Homo sapiens: one gene and its partners. The protein of the gene in region 2 interacts with the protein of the main gene of each other region in a pairwise test. Each region holds a gene or a part of one and is shown on either strand. Other genes may lie near its edges. The genes, in order: PCNT, RPRD1A and ZNF76.

Region 1 (3,725 bases), on a different chromosome or scaffold from region 2:
CCCGGCCTCTGCACCTGCCCGCCCGACACTCACCTGTGTGGCCTTGGGAGCAGAGGGTGGTGACAGGGCATCATCTAGTCAAGCCCCTGAGTGTTGCCATGGTTGTCAGCTGATAGGACTGAGCAGAAAGGACCCTGGAGACAGGCAGCGCTGGGTGGGGCTGGCACGGAGGCCTCACTCTTGGGCCTGATGTGGGCAAGAGGGGCCTGGGTTGGGCTCTGAGTGCTGGCAGATTCTTGGGAGCTCATGCTAGAGTTCAGGAATGTCTCGTAGGTTTCTACATTTAATTTAGCTTCTTCGGGAGTTTTTATGTAGATGCTCAGGTCATCTGTGGGTAAGTAACGATTTTTTGTTTCTTGCCCGTGTTCTCTCACGTGCTGTGCCGTCAGCTGTGTGGGCAGATGCCATTCCCTGCTCTTAGTTTTGGGGGCAGGAGCTGGTCTCGTACCATCGCATGTGGGGTCAGGCGCCCTTGGTCAGCTTGGGCAAGTGCCCTCTGTTCCTAGTTTTGGATTCCGTCAAGGGGAACGGCCTTGCAGTTCAGCCCACGGCCCTTGTCCCGGCGCCCATGCCCTTTGTGCTCTCTGGGGCTGGGGGCCGGCGCTGTGCACATGCTCGTGAGGGGCATGGGTGGGGCTGGCGCTGTGCAAGCGCTTGTCAGGGGCATGGGCGGGGGGTGCCGGCGCTGTGCGAGCGCTCGTGAGAGGCATGGGGGGGCTGGCGCTGTGCACGTGCTCGTGAGGGGCACGGGCAGGGGGTGCCGGCGCTGTGCGAGCGCTCGTGAGGGGCATGGGGGGGCTGGCGCTGTGCACGTGCTCGTGAGGGGCACAGGGGGGCCGGCACTGTGCGATCGCTCGTGAGGGGCATGGGGGTGGTGGGCCGGTGCTGTCTGAGTGCTCGTGAGGGGCACTGGTCTGTTTTCTGTTGTGCCTTTTTGGTCTTGGTGCTGGGTAGCGCCAGCCCCACGGGGTGCGGGAAGTATTTGGGAAGTAGCCCCTCCGCCCTCCGTTGTCTAGAATTGGGGTTATTTCTTCCTTAAGTTTTGGGAGAATTTTCCAGTAAAGCCACCTGGGCCTGGAGTTCCCTCTGTTGGAGGCAGTTTAGGGTGTGAGTGGGGGTGAGGTGGCATTTTTAGGATGGCCCCAGGGCTATATCACTCCTGGACTCTGTGTCTCCCGGCCAGGTGGGTGGGCCCTGGAAGGAAATGGGCCCAGAGGGCAGAATTGAGCATCCTGGTTCCACCCGCAGTGAAAGCTTCTAGTCCACAGAACCTCCTTTCTTCCCGAAGCACATACACCTCACGCCCCCACGAGTCTGTCTCTAACCTGGTGTCACTTGTGCAGCACGAGGAGCTCATGGGGGCCTGTTACTGTTCTTTTGTCTTTCTCAGTTGAACTGCTGGCTTATAAAGTAGAGCAGGAGAAGTGCATTGCTGGTGACTTGCAGAAGACGCTGAGTGAAGAGCAAGAGAAGGCAAACAGCGTGCAGAAGCTCCTGGCGGCGGAGCAGACTGTAGTGCGAGATTTGAAGTCCGACCTCTGTGAGAGCAGGCAGAAGAGCGAACAGCTGTCCCGGTCCCTCTGCGAGGTGCAGCAGGAGGTCCTCCAGCTGAGGTGCGCCTGATCCCCCTTCCTGGGACACTGGCGGGAGTCCCCCCGTTGTGCCATGTTTTCTTGGTGATGAAGGGAGACAGAACCTCTGGTGGGCCGCAGTTGGGCAGCCCCAGGGGCACCGCGCCCTGCTGTCCCTGGGTTGATAATCCTGTGGTGGGGGGTGAAGCACACGTGTGGGACCTGGCAGGGCTCTGCCTCCCCTCCTGGAGCTCCCAGCCCCCGGGAACACACTCTGGCCCACGTGGTCAGATTGTTCTGCGATGTCTCCACGCAGATCCATGCTGAGCAGTAAGGAGAACGAGCTGAAGGCCGCGCTTCAGGAGCTGGAGAGTGAGCAGGGGAAGGGGCGTGCCCTGCAGAGCCAGCTGGAGGAGGAGCAGCTGCGGCACCTGCAGAGGGAGAGCCAGAGTGCCAAGGCCCTGGAGGTAACAGGGTGTCAGGGCAAGGCAGCCGGCATGGGCTGTGTGCACTGGAAGCCTGAAGCCATGCTCCTCTTTCATCCTTCTTTTCCTGTTCTTCATGGCAGTGCACCCAGTTGACAGCAGTGTGACGTAGCAGGATAGGGCTGTGTTTGCAGGTAAAATTGCACCTTGGTGTAGTGGCAGCCACCACAGGGCGAAGAGTGCGATGACCCGTGGTGGCACGATACCCCTGCTCGGAGCCCCCCCCCGTCCCTGAGCACTTGCTGTGGAGATGGACACAGCCTCCTCGCTGGCATCCAGACAGAGCACAGCCTCAGAGGTCTGTGCACAAGGCAGGCTGGTGGTGGGGCCTCTGCTTTGCATGGCGGAGGCCCAGCAGGCCTGCTGTGGCTTCTGAGCAAGTCTGTGCCAGTTCCATGGGTTATGGCTTTCAACAGCATGGAAGTGGTGGTTCCTAGCAAGCTGGGTGTGTATCTCTGAGCCTCTGGTGGAGTGATTTTCTGAAGAGGGGGCAGGAGCCTCTGGTGGAGTGATTTTCTGAAGAGGGGGCAGGAGCCTCTGGTGGAGTGATTTTCTGGAGAGGGGGCGGGCAGGGGACATCTCTGAATCATTTTCTGGAGAGGGACAGACTGGGAACATCTCTGAACCCAGGACTCAACACCATTTCCGAAAAAAGTATGTCATCTCCGCAGTCTGGGTTTTTTGTTACTTGATGAACTAACAAAAAAATGTTGTCCCTACATGTGGCTAATAGGGTGCATTTCAAAAGGTAGAATTGCTGGGCTAAAGTATATAAACAAATGTGGACAGGAAAACCATGTAGACACTTTTCCTCTTGATTCAGTGTCTCCCATCGTATGTGTTTGCTGTCTAGGAGCTGCGGGCGTCTTTGGAGACACAGCGTGCTCAGAGCAGTCGACTCTGCGTGGCACTGAAACACGAGCAGACGGCCAAGGACAACCTGCAGAAGGAGCTGCGTATCGAGCACTCACGCTGCGAGGCCTTGCTGGCTCAGGAGCGGAGCCAGCTCTCTGAGCTCCAGAAGGACCTTGCGGCTGAGAAGAGCCGCACCCTGGAGCTGTCAGAGGCCTTGCGGCACGAGCGGCTCCTGACCGAGCAGCTGAGCCAGAGGACACAGGAGGCTTGCGTGCACCAGGACACACAGGCCCATCACGCTCTGCTGCAGAAGCTGAAGGAGGAGAAGTCCCGGGTGGTGGACTTGCAAGCGATGCTTGAAAAGGTGCAGCAGCAAGCCCTGCATTCTCAGCAGCAGCTTGAGGCTGAGGCTCAGAAGCACTGTGAGGCGCTCAGGAGAGAGAAGGAGGTAAGTGCCACACTGAAGTCGACGGTGGAAGCCCTGCACACCCAAAAACGAGAGCTGAGATGCTCTCTGGAGAGAGAGAGGGAGAAACCAGCGTGGTTGCAGGCAGAATTAGAGCAGTCACACCCACGGTTGAAAGAGCAAGAAGGACGCAAGGCTGCGAGGAGGAGCGCGGAGGCCAGGCAGAGCCCAGCGGCTGCGGAGCAGTGGAGGAAGTGGCAGAGAGACAAGGAGAAGCTGGTGAGAGCCGCCTGCCGGCGGAGCGTCCACACCTAAAAACGATAAGCAATTGGAGTTAGGATGGTTCACGTGGGGGACGCGAGATTTATGTCTGGCCCTCTGACCTGGTCTGCTCTGGTCTGTGTGCCC
Region 2 (3,725 bases):
CAGGGAAGTGGACGCAAGCGGGTTGTTGCTGCTGGTTTGGGTGGCCTGCTTTTATTCTCTTATCTGGCCCCAGCCACGTCCTGCTGATTGGTCCATTTTACAGAGAGCTGATTGGTCCGTTTTGACAGAGTGCTGATTGGTGCGTTTTATGATCCTTTAGCGAGACACACAGCACTGATTGTTGCATTTACAAACTTTTAGCTAGACACAGAGTGCTGATTGGTGTGTTTACAAACCTCTAGCTAGGCACAGAGCACTGATTGGTGCGTTTACAAACCTTGAGCTAGACACAGAGTGGTGATTGGTGCGTTTACAATCCTTTAGCTAGACAGAAAAGTTTTCCAAGTCCCCACCTGACCCAGAAGCCCAGCTGGCTTCACCTCTCAATGGCACTCGCCGCGGGACTTTGCGGCACCTAGCTTGGGCACTCTAGCAGCCCAGAGGGAGCTCGTCCCCCATCAAGCCCAGCAGGCACCCACCCGGAACCGCGCGTAGCCCAGGCTCCTGCCGGCGCCTCTCTCTCTACACCTCCCTGAGAGCAGATGGAGCCGGCTCCGGCCTCTGCCAGCCGCAGAGAGGGGCTCCCACAGTGCAGCAGCGGGCTGAAGGGCTCCTTGAGCACGGCCAGAGCAGACGCCGAGGCCGAGGAGGCGCCGAGAGCGAGCAAGGGCTGCTAGGACGTTGTCACCTCTCAATAGGAGAAAGCTATCTAATATTTAATGTATTTAAGAAAATGGTGCAAATGTGGTAAAATTGTAAGATGTGCTTTTAGCAAGGTTTGTGATGTTTCCATATGTTTAAGTGTTTCATAAGTGGAAAACGTTAAAGCATATAAAAAGATGCTTTAGGAGGAGGGTGGTAGTGATGATAGTGTTGATAGTAACGGTGATGCTGATGAACATACCGCTGCCGCTTTAATCCTCATATTAGCCTGGGCTACTCTGCCAAGGGTTTCCTTTTCTTGACAGATGACTGCTTTTGCAGGGTGTAGCCTTTGTGTCCTTCCCCTTTCCTGCAGTTTTGCTCATCAACTTCAGGATTCTCATCTCCTGTAGTTTAATGATAATGGCAATCAGTTACTGAGTACCAGACATTCTTTTAGTTATTTTACCATATCTTGAATCACATTATTTCTGCAGAATAATTATGAAAGGAATCGATCAATCTTGAAAGTATATTACAACAAACTAAAGAAAATTAGTTGAACATTTTGTGTTAAGCTAGGCATTCTTTAGTTTCTCAAAGTGTGTAAAGACAAAAATGTGAGAGTGGGAGAAGCTACTGTTTAAAATAAAAGAATGAGCTGGGTACTGTGGCTCATGCCTGTAATCCCAGCACTTTAGGAGGCTGAGGGAAGTGGATTGCCAGAGCTCAGGTGTTCGAGACCAGCGTGGTCAACATGGCAAAACCCTGTCTCTACAGAAAATACCAAAATTAGCTGGGCATGATGGCGCAGGCCTAAGGAGGCTGAGGTTGGGGGGTCACTTGAGCCCAAGAGGTTTAGGCTGCAGTGAGCCAAGTGCGCCACTGCACTCCAACCTGGGCGACAGAGCAAGGCCCTGTCTCAGAAAACAAACAAACAAAAAAATATAAGAATGAATAAGTAAAATTATATATGTTAGATAATGGTAGCCATTCAGTTATGAAGGTTTCCCTTCTTTTCCTACCTTCCTTATCTTTGTCTCCTTTAAAGAAAGAGTTTCTGTTTGGAGGGATAAACTTCAAGGCCTTTGTGAAGACCAAAATGGCATACAATTTTCCTGATAAATGCAGTAAAGTGTAACCAAAAATGTAAGTGACCATTTTGTTACTTCTTTATTAAGATGTAATTCACATACCACACCTTTTATCCATTCAAAGTATACTATTCAGTGGTTTTTGATATGTTTATAGAATTGTAAAGCTACCACCAGTTTTAGAACATTTTTATTACCCAGAAAGAAACTCCATGCCATTTAGCTGTTGTCCCCAGTCCCCCATCTCTCCCAACCCTAGGCAACTGCTAATTTACTTTGCCTCTATAGATTGGACTATTTTTACCATTTCATATGAATAGAATTATATAGTATGTGGTCTTTTGTGTGTTTTCCATCCATGCTATAACATGGATGAGCCTGGAAAACATGTTAATTAAAAGAAGCCAGTTGCAAAAGACCACTTACTGTCCTTCAGTCTTTTCTATGGCCGAATAGAATATTGTATGAATTTAGCCATTCATCAGTTGATAGACGTTCGAGTTGTTTCCGCTTTTTGGCTATTATAAATAATGCTGCTGTGAGCACTCCTGTACAAGCTTTTTTTTTTTGTGGATATGTTTTCATCTTGGATACTTACTGAGGAGTGGAATTTCTGGGTCATATGGGAATCCTATGTTCAACCTTTTGAGGATCCACCAGGCTATTTTCCACAGTGGGTACATGTTTTTTTTTTTTTTTTTTTTTTTTTGAGACGGAGTCTCGCTCTGTCGCCCAGGCCGGACTGCGGACTGCAGTGGCGCAATCTCGGCTCACTGCAAGCTCCGCTTCCCGGGTTCACGCCATTCTCCTGCCTCAGCCTCCGGAGTAGCTGGGACTACAGGCGCCCGCCACCGCGCCCGGCTAATTTTTTGTATTTTTAGTAGAGACGGGGTTTCACCTTGTTAGCCAGGATGGTCTCGATCTCCTGACCTCATGATCCACCCGCCTCGGCCTCCCAAAGTGCTGGGATTACAGGCGTGAGCCACCGCGCCCGGCCATGTTTTTAAAATACATTCCTACAAGCAGTGTATGAGGGTCCAGTTTTTCTACATCCTTGCTAATATTTGTTATCTTTTTGATTACAGCTGTCCTAGTGGGTATGAAGTGGTATCTCATGATTTTGATATGCATTTCCCAGATGACTAATGACACTGAGCCTATTTTCATGTACTTATTGGCCATTTGGATGTTGTCTGGAGAAATGTCTATTCTGCCTATTTTAAAATTTGTCTTTTTATGATTGAGTTGTAAGTGTTCCCAATGTATTCTAGGTACAAGTATTGTATTAGATTCATACCACAAATATTTTCTTCCATTCAGTGGGTTGTCTTTTTACTTTCTTAATAGTGTCCTTTGAAGGTGACTGTTTTAAACTGTAAATGTCTCAGTCAATACTAGGCTAAATTTTAAAACTTAATATACATCATTAATTTATATTCATTTCTGTAGAAATATTGACCATGAACATACCTGAACTTAGAAACCAACACTAACATTTGGGCTCTTTTCTACACACACTCGCTGAAAGATCTCTATAAGAGCTGTACAAAACAAGATAGATAGGAGGAAATTCTTTGTAGTTGGTGAAGGTCACTGCCTTCCCTAGTCTAGTGATTGTATCCTTTGTACCAGCCTCTTTTATGTTATATTGGTGTCTTAACAAAACTGTAAGTGCCTCAACCCCTTAAAGTATGTTTACTCACCCTGTATTTATTGATTGTGTATTACAATGGTAAAGAAAACAAAGGGAAAACAGTTTATCCCTGCCCTCAGAATTTATAGTCTTGTGGTAAGGGCAACCAATAAACAAAAAATTTTAAATATAAATTTCGTGTTTAGTTCTTTGAAGGAGGAAATCTTTAGTTAGAGGGAAATCATCTCTGCAAGGTGACGTTTAATAAAAGACCTCTTTGAACAAGTTGCGGGGGTAGGGGGGCTTGGGCCTGCAGCCACTGGGAATATGTGAAAGTGCTGAGGTGATACATAGCT
Region 3 (2,876 bases), on a different chromosome or scaffold from region 2:
AGAGCTGGGTAATAGAGCCAAGACTTCAGCTCCAGAGGCATCAGACTCTGCTCCTTGAATCTCAGTAACCTTGGCAAAGGTGTCCCCCAGCCTCACTCTAACCTGGGGCTTTGCCCTCTTGGAGAAGCTGACTGTGTGATTTGGGGGTGGCTGGGTTGGAGGGGCTCTGACTACGTTTCACAAGAAAAGGCAGGAAAAGAGTTCCCCCAGCTCAATCACATGAGGCCTGAGATTCAGCCAGAGCCTGGAAGCAGCGGTCACCCTGGTCCTGTTTGGCTACCCTGGAGCCCACCTGCTCAGCTGTGGGCAAGAAGCCACCAGCAGCTCCTCAGGGCTTTATCTTATACTGGGCTTCCTTCCCACCTGTGTCCCTGGCAGGCCAGCCCCACCACTCTGGCACCAAGGCTGAGTGGGGTTTGTGCCAGGGAGACAGGGCTGATAGCCTGATTTGACCAACCCTGCCACCCGGGCCTAGAGCTGAAAGGATGGAGGGACCCAGGTGGAAATTTGGAACTTTTATTAAATACTCATTCATCCATGTGCCACCACCACCCAGAGCAGGAAAAAAATTATCAAAATGGAATTAAAAAAAACAAAACAAATCAAACCCAATCCCCAGCAGTCTATGTACAGGGCCACTCCCTGCCTCTCTGCCATAGAGAGGTTGGGGGGCAGCTGAGGAGTGGTGGGGGCTGGGCACCTTTTCTTCAGCCACAGGCCCCTGAGGAATTAATTGACTGTGGTGTCAGGAAGTCCCTGGTGCCAAGTAGCCAGGCATCTCAGCTGGCCTCCAGGGAGGTGGTTATTGCTGGGAGGGCAGGACAGGGCCTGCTCCACTGCTACTGGGCTGAAGAGCTGTCTGTGGCTCAACCCTACAGGGCCAGTCCCCATAGCAGCCCCAATCTCTACCTGAGAAGGGGAACAGACTGAGGGCCAGAAGGGTGTTCTTTAGGAGGAGAGTGGGCGCCCAGCTGATTTTGAGAGGCGGGTGCCCTGGTGTAGCCTGGCTGTTGTCAGCTCCCGAGGATGATGCACTCCCCTGATTCCAGCTGCCTGGCCCCCTTCTTGAGCAGGGCCCCCATTCCCTTCAGTTAGGCAGTTTTCTTGCTGTCTTCTCACCCCAGAGACCTATGTGGCCACCTTCTATGTGTCAGCCACAGCCTGGGCCCTTGGGGGCAAGAGTGGCCATGCAGATGGCACTTCCTCCAGCATGGTGTGGGACCCAGCCCTCTTGGACTCAGCAGCCACTCTCCGACACTGTTGTCTCCAGGGTCACAGCCCCTTGCTGCATGGCCGCAGTGGCCACATTGATGGCCTCCTCTAAGGTCTGCTGTTCCTCCAGCTGTGGGGAAGGGGGTGCAGAAGGAAGGAGACAGTGAGACCCTCCCTGCTAGATTCCAGTGTTAGTAATATGTGGCCTACTTTTTTTTTTGACTCTCCCCCATCTACCCAGTGCCACACGCTGAGCACTTAGTAGGGCTCCAATAAACATGAAGTTCACGGATGAAGAGTCCTATTAGGCTAGGCATGGCCAGGGGGCCCTGGAATAGCCAGGGTCAGAGAGACCCACTTGCTCACGGAGGAAGGACTGGCTGAAGAGAACCGTGGTGATCATCTACGTCAGCCTCCTTCATTTCCAGATGAAGAAACAGAGACACAAAATGATGAAGGGCTTGGACCACAGGTGGACTGCCATCGGAGTTATCCTGAAGGCCAGAAGAGGCTTCAACATTCTGCCTCAGCCAAGAGCGAGCCTGAGACAGATGCATGGATGCAGGAGGAAAGGGATCTGTCCTCTGAAATGGGCTCTTTTTGAGTCAGATGCCCTTCTCTTCAAGATCCTCATCTAATTCCCCTTTATTCCTTGTTGACTTCTCTGGCCGTGGGATCCCCTTTCCTCCCAGATCTCTACTCACCTGCACTGCAATGTGCGTTCCGTTGGCTGTGGCCAACAGTGCCACCTGTTGATGACGAAGAGATGCTACACTTGAGTCCTCAGCCACCACAGCCCCAGAGGTAATGATTGTGACCTGAAAGACAAAAGGAGGTCTTCCATTCCACCTGCAGTATACTCTCCCTCCCCACAATCCAAATAAACATCCCTCCAATTAAGGTGCTGGGAACAACCCAGAAGAGAATGGATAAAACCGTATGGGTCAGATTAATTAGCCTGAGGCTCAGAGCTAAGTAAGGCTGGGTTTCCTCCCAACTTAGAGCCCAATTTAATTTAGGGATTTTGAATCACAGAAGGACAGAGCTGTAAAAAATTCCAGAGATATTTTAATCCCCTCACTTGAAAATGGACAGAAGTCCATGGAAAAGTGATTTGCCTAAGGTTGCACAACAAATCAGGGTTGAATTGAGATTTAGAAAGTGTCTCTTGACCTCCATTCAACTGCTTTTAAAGGTAAGAGCTGCTCATGGCCCAGGAACTGTGGGGAAGACCCCTTCTTTTGTGGGGAATCTTTGTCCTGGTAAGAAGACTTGACTAGTTTAGGCTGCACTTTAATGCCCGCCCCATGGAAAGGAATGACAAAATAAGAAACCCCAAGCAAACCGCCTGGTCATACGGGCTGCGTCTGGGTGCCATCGGCGCTGACCATGGTGACTGTATGTGTGCCAGATGTGGCCAGGTCGGCATCAGGACTGGGGATGGTGAGGGTGGTGCTGCCGTGCTGGGTGACCATACTGATGGCACTCCCCAGGGCCTGCAGGTCTTCCGGGGACAGGCTGACCTGCCAACAGGAGGGGAAGATGAGCTGGCAGTGTCAGTGGAGGGTTGTCTGAAAGTCCCTAAGGAAGATATACCTGCTCTCCCAGACAAGGTCAGCTTATTAGTTTCATGTCATAGTGGTGGAAGGGATGGGTGACAGGCA

The links.
Region 1: the proteins of RPRD1A (region 2) and PCNT interact in a two-hybrid assay, tested with the Homo sapiens proteins (one large-scale study listed by BioGRID and IntAct).
Region 3: the proteins of RPRD1A (region 2) and ZNF76 interact in binary tests that used the Homo sapiens proteins (3 or more experiments, as listed by UniProt).

The regions. Positions count from the first base shown.
Region 1 is NC_000021.9:46,428,620-46,432,344, forward strand, and holds part of PCNT (pericentrin), read left to right. Parts: intron 1-1,390; coding exon 1,391-1,613; intron 1,614-1,887; coding exon 1,888-2,038; intron 2,039-2,909; coding exon 2,910-3,596; intron 3,597-3,725. UniProt on the Homo sapiens protein: Integral component of the filamentous matrix of the centrosome involved in the initial establishment of organized microtubule arrays in both mitosis and meiosis. Plays a role, together with DISC1, in the microtubule network formation.
Region 2 is NC_000018.10:36,061,044-36,064,768, reverse strand, and holds part of RPRD1A (regulation of nuclear pre-mRNA domain-containing protein 1A), read left to right. Parts: intron 1-3,725. UniProt on the Homo sapiens protein: Interacts with phosphorylated C-terminal heptapeptide repeat domain (CTD) of the largest RNA polymerase II subunit POLR2A, and participates in dephosphorylation of the CTD by RPAP2.
Region 3 is NC_000006.12:35,293,610-35,296,485, reverse strand, and holds the end of ZNF76 (zinc finger protein 76), read right to left. Parts: intron 2,736-2,876; coding exon 2,571-2,735; coding exon of another isoform or gene 2,565-2,570; exon of another isoform or gene 2,558-2,564; intron 2,031-2,557; coding exon 1,917-2,030; intron 1,707-1,916; coding exon of another isoform or gene 1,575-1,706; exon of another isoform or gene 1,571-1,574; intron 1,343-1,570; coding exon 1,238-1,342; 3' UTR 501-1,237; downstream 1-500. UniProt on the Homo sapiens protein: May be involved in transcriptional regulation.